2 separate regions of the Homo sapiens genome follow, and region 2 is linked to region 1. Evidence: fine-mapped expression QTL. A gene starts in region 1. The other region holds a variant in brackets. All regions are shown on one strand. Distances are from middle to middle.

What was found. PIP is the estimated chance that this variant, and not a neighbour inherited with it, causes the effect.
Region 2: its variant is fine-mapped to the expression of RBBP9 in nasal epithelium (TOPMed, PIP above 0.99).

What each region holds. Positions count from the first base shown.
Region 1 is chr20:18,495,489-18,498,409 of GRCh38, forward strand. RBBP9 (RB binding protein 9, serine hydrolase) reads right to left here and starts at 1,737. Exons shown (of 5, transcript NM_006606.3): 1 at 1,581-1,737; 2 at 350-392. The coding sequence starts at 1,679. RefSeq lists enhancers at 1,290-1,339, 1,510-1,669, 1,522-2,086, 1,690-1,739, 1,840-1,899.
Region 2 is chr20:18,535,796-18,538,716 of GRCh38, forward strand. All of the region lies in intron 12 of SEC23B (SEC23 homolog B, COPII component), which reads left to right. Among named protein-coding and RNA genes, the nearest start is that of SEC23B, 29 kb to the left of the region's middle. The variant C/T (reference allele first, on the strand shown) is at 1,623.

The DNA.
Region 1 (2,921 bases):
CCGTTGTTCACTTGTTTATCTGCTGACCTTCCCTCCACTATTGTCCTGTGACCCTGCCAAATCCCCCTCTGCGAGAAACACCCAAGAATGATCAATAAATAAATAAATAAATAAATAAATAAATAAATAAATAAAAATGACAAATTCACAGAATTGAAAAAAAAAAAAAAAAAAGAATTTTCTATGGCTTTTGGTTCACACCCTCCTCCCCAAGCTGCTTGCCTTATTCTTTCTTAGGTATATAGGCATCTTTGGTTCCTCCACTATGATATTCTTGTTCTCTACCACAAAAATGGTAATATCAAAACCCAACAAGATGAGGCTATTTAAAAACAAGTTTAAAACTTACTTGGGTCGGGCATGTTTTTAGCCAAACACTGGAAACCAGGTATCTATGATATGAGGGGGGAGAAAAAGCTATAATAAAGAGCTTAATTACAACTAATACTTTGCTAATAAGAAATGAGGCACCTGATATGATCGTTACCAATTCAGTATTAACTTGTGTTATGAAATGAAGTAGGTTAAGTGACCATCTTTTCGCATGAACTCCATCTGTAGTTCTGTATCTAGGCAGCTCTGCTGATCTCTATAGAGAGACCTATATCTGCATTTGTACACCCATATTTGCCTCTACAGGCCTGCATCTATAGAGAGGCATGAACAAATGTGTTCTAGACAGACTGACCTGGAGCCAAATAGACTGTGTTCCAGGGAGTAGGTAAAACGTGGCACAGGAACGTGATACAGAAATTTGGAGACAGCATACTCTCAGAAGCTCCAGCCCTGACCTTTGGGGTTGTAACTCTGACCAGGGTTTTCAGCCACAGCGCTGCAATCTATTCTGGAGACCCGCTCTAGAGGACAGCAACCCAGGGAGCCGACTTACCGCCTGGTTACAGAAGAGGGTTAAAAAATAAAAATCAAACGGCACAGGTCAGCCTACAGTAAGATGCCACTTTTATAAAGCTCACCAAGAAGCCAAATAGAACAGTCTGTTGTTTAAAAGGTATATTCATAGGTTGAAAAGTACTTCAATTTTAAAAAGAGAAGCAGATGAAAAAATTCAGGATGGCACGGGACTGAGATGGGTAGACATAAGGGTCGTTTGGAAGATGATGTATAGGCAATGTCCCAGGTTTTAGTTTGGTAATTCATTACATTATGCCTCATAATGTAGACGCATGTTACGTATATCCTTTGTATATATTAAGTATAGCATATTTAATTTTTTAAAAGCTGAAGCGGGAAGCAGTGAACATGTAAAATTATCTGGGAAGTCCCAAATCTGAACCAGCAGCAGATACGGGGGGCGGGGCTCAGGGGCTCAGCCTCGGTAGTTCAAAGGGGTTCCTTTAACTCTAAAGGCTGAGCCCTCAGAGAAGTCTTCCAGGCAGTTTTACCAGTCAAAATTCGACCACTAGCTCAGACTTTAAGAGAAGGCAGCGGGGGAGAGGCAGGAAAACACACAGGGCTTTGCTAGAGGGGATTAGACGCCTATTCAAACTTCAGCCCTCAGTCCTCTCCCGCCGTCCCTCCCTCCAGGCTGACTTCACGGAGCAGCGGCGTTGGGCGCTTACCTTCTCCAGCTCCTTTTTCACCCAGCCATACCAGCCGTGGGTGGTCACATCCCCGCCTCCGTTCCCGGGAACAATCACTGCCTTGCTAGGAGAAGCCATGAGTGCAGCGAGGCCAGAGTTCCCCAGCGCGGGTCCAGCGGAGCTGAGCCCAGCCTGCTCCCGCAGGGAGCCTGCGCCGCGGCATCCTGGGAGTTGTAGTTGCGGGGACCTGGGAGGCCGGGCTCTTTCCTCCTTGGCCTGCCTTCCGCTGGCTGCGTGGGGCAGCCAAGAACAAAGCCTGCGAGCTTCCATCAATTGTAAAGCAAAGCACCCTTTACTTGCCTCTTACTAGTGCTCTCATGTTTTTCCCTTATTTAAGACAGGCTATGACACGGTTGGGGTGTGTTATTTCTTTGCTAGATTTACTGATATTTCTATAGGAAAGTTTGTTTTTGGTTTCAAACATGCAGAAAACCCATTTATAACCTGGGAACGCCTGAAATCCATATTATTTTTCCTTCTGAGTTTAAAACAGTTTTTAGTAGTCAGTATCAGCCCTGGTTGTTGTTTTTCATTGCTTTGAATGAAATTTCCTTGCATAAAGCTACTAACCCAAGTAAAACAAGCAAAAATTTAATTAAATACCAAGAAAATACTTCGTCAGATTTTCATATTAAACCAGCTGATACTGAAATTGTTTAAAATAGTTTATAACCAATGCTTAGTCCCATATTCCTGGGAAGACAAACAAAGCTTCATGTACATTTGGTCACCGGGTGGGCCATTTAAACATTTTGTAAGGGGATTTCATTCAATTGTTATTTGAATTCCAATTTGTCATTCTGGTTGTATAAAAGCTTTCCCATGCAAGAGGGCTGATGTTATAACAGTAGATTATTATGCTACAGTGTATTTTCCCCCGGTAAAGAAAGCTTTTTATGGTTTGAATTTTCTGGAAACATTGGAGAAGACTGTCCTTGTCATCCACACTACAACAAAACTTCAGGACCTTGGGCTTTGGGTTCATGGTCTCGCAAATGAGAACGGTCCCTCCACACTTTTGGAACAGTGCACCCATTGGAACTTTTGAGGTAAAGCTACCCTGGGAAATTTCTCCCAAGAAGAAAATGGCATCCTTGATGTGAACAGCTTTTCCCAAGTTCACAGATTAAGACTTCTACTACCATGAAACTCTTATCTTTCAATATTTTTTGTCTTCCTTATGCCTCTACAAACAATAGAAGTGGAAAAGGGGTCTGTTATGTGCACTTATGGGGTATACTTTTATTTGTGAAGGAGTTTGCAGCCAGCCTTATACATGGATAAACTTAGACTTTGATAGATAAAAGATGAAGGCCCGAA
Region 2 (2,921 bases), 40 kb after region 1:
TATCTCAAACCAGTGGTCTCTGGTTACTTTCTTCACAAACCAATATTCCTTGGGTATTGTATTAGGCCTGATGATAGTCTGGCATGACCTTTTCTTATTTATTCCTTCAAGGGTTTAGTCGGAGTCAGGCAACAAATTACTTTTGTCCTTTTATTGTTGAACTGATAAGGTCATTAGAAGTGTAATAGATTTTACCAGTCATCATAATGTTGGTGAATTTTTTAGTGCATCGGTTCTTTCCCTAATATTTTATTATGAAAAATTCCAAACATACAGAAAAATTGAAAGAATTGTACGGTGAACACGTACTACCTAGGTGAACCCATCAACTTGATTCTGTAATTAACATTTTACTCTACTGGCATACCTTGGAAATACTGTGGGTTCAGTTCCAGACTACCACAATAAAGTGAATATTGCAATAAAGCAAGTCACATGAATATTTTGGTTTCCTATTGCATATAAAAGTTATGTTTGCACTATAGTATGTTAAGTGTTAAATAGCATTATGTCTTTGAAAACATTGTTCATTCTTGGATTAAAAAAATACTTTACAGTTGACCCTTGAGTAGTGTTGGGGTGCTGACACTGCATAGTTAAAAATCCACATATAACGGCCGGGTGCTGTGGCTCACGCCTGTAATCCCAGCACTTTGGGAGGCCGAGGCGGGCGGATCATGAGGTCAGGAGATCGAGACCATCCTGGCTAATATGGTGAAACCCTGTCTCTACTAAAAATACAAAAATTTAGCCAGGTGTGTTGGTGGGTGCCTGTAGTCCCAGCTACTTGGGAGGCTGAGGCAGGAGAATGGCGTGAACCCAGGAGGCAGAGCTTGCAGTGAGCCAAGATCGTGCCACTGCACTCCAGCCTGGGCAACAGAGCGAGACTCCATCTCAAAAAAAAAAAAAAATCCACATATAACTTTAACTCCCCCAAAACTTAACTACTAGTAGTCCACTGTTGACTGGGAACCTGACCGATAACAGTTGATTAACACATATTTTGTAAGTAATATATATTATGTCCTGTATTCTTACAATAAAGTAAGCTAGAGAAAAGAGAATGTTATTAAGAAAATCATAAGGGAAGGAAAGTGTATTTACTATTTGTTAAGTGGAAATGAACATCACAAAGTCTTCATACTCTCATCTTCATGTTCAGTAGGCTGAGGAGGAGGAGGAAGAGGAGGGTTTGGTCTTGCAGTCTTGGGTGGCAGAGGCAGAAGAAAATCCACATATAAGTGGACCTGTACAGTTCAAACCTGTGTTACTCATCATTAAAAAGTCAGGAAACAACAGGTGCTGGAGAGGATGTGGAGAAATAGGAACACTTTTACACTGTTGGTGGACTGTAAACTAGTTCAATCCTTGTGGAAGTCAGTGTGGCGATTCCTCAGGGATCTAGAACTAGAAATACCATTTGACCCAGCCATCCCATTACTGGGTATATACCCAAAGGACTATAAATCATGCTGCTATAAAGACACATGCACACGTATGTTTATTGTGGCTCTATTCACAATAGTAAAGACTTGGAACCAACCCAAATGTCCAACAATGATAGACTGGATTAAGAAAATGTGGCACATATACACCATGGAATACTATGCAGCCATAAAAAA[C/T]GATGAGTTCATGTCCTTTGTAGGGACATGGATGAAATTGGAAATCATCATTCTCAGTAAACTATCGCAAGGACAAAAAAACACCGCATGTTCTCACTCATAGGTGGGAATTGGACATTGAGAACACATGGACACAGGAAGGGGAACATCACACTCTGGGGACTGTTGTGGGGTGGGGGAAGGGGGGAGGAATAACATTAGGAGATATAACTAATGCTAAATGATGAGTTAATGGGTACAGCACACCAGCATGGCACATGTATACATATGTAACTAACCTGCACATTGTGCACATGTACCCTAAAACTTAAAGTATAATAATAATAAAAAATAAATAAATAAATAAAAAAACCTGTGTTGCTCAAGGGTCAACTATATTGCTCAAAAATGTTAATGCTCATCTGATCCTTTAGTGAGTCATACTCTTTTGCTGGTGGAAGGTCTTACATTGATGTTGTTGGCTGCTGACTGATCAGGTTAGTAGTTGCTGAAGGCTGAGTGGCTGTGGCAGTTTCTTCTCTTTTTGTTTTTTTTTTAATTAAGACAAAGTCTTGTTCTATCACCCAGGCACGATCTATCACCCAGGCACGGTCTTGGCTCACTGCAACCTCCACCTCACAGGTTCAAGCCATTCTCCCACCCCAGCCTCCCGAGTAGCTAGGCTTACAGGTGCCAGCCACCATGTCTGGCTAGTTTTTGTATTTTTAGCAGAGACAAGGTTTTGCCACAATGGCCAGGCTGGTCTTGAACTGACCTCAAGTGATCTGCCTGCCTCAGCTCCCAAAGTGTTGGAATTACAGGTGTGAGCTACCACGCCCCACCTGGGAATTTCTTTTTTTTTTTTTTTTTTGAGACGGGGTCTCGCTCTGTACCCCAGGCTGGAGTGCAGTGGCATGATCTTGGCTCACTGCAAGCTTCGCCTCCTGGGTTCACGCCATTCTCCTGCCTCAGCCTCCCGAGTAGCTGGGACTACAGGCACCCGCCACCACGCCCAGCTAATTTTTTTTTTGTATTTTTAGTAGAGACGGGGTTTCACCCTGTTAGCCAGGATGGTCTCGATCTCCTGACCTCGTGATCCGCACGTCTCTGCCTTCCAAAGTGCTGGGATTACAGGCGTGAGCCACCATGCCTGGCCGGAATTTCTTGAAATAAGGCAACAATGAAATTTGCTGCATCAGTCGACTCTTCCTTCCAGGAAAGATTTCTCTGTAGCATGCAGTGTTGTTTGATAGCTTTTTACCCACAGTAGAACTTCTTTAAAAAATGGAATCAATTCTCTTAAACTTTGCTGCTGCTTTA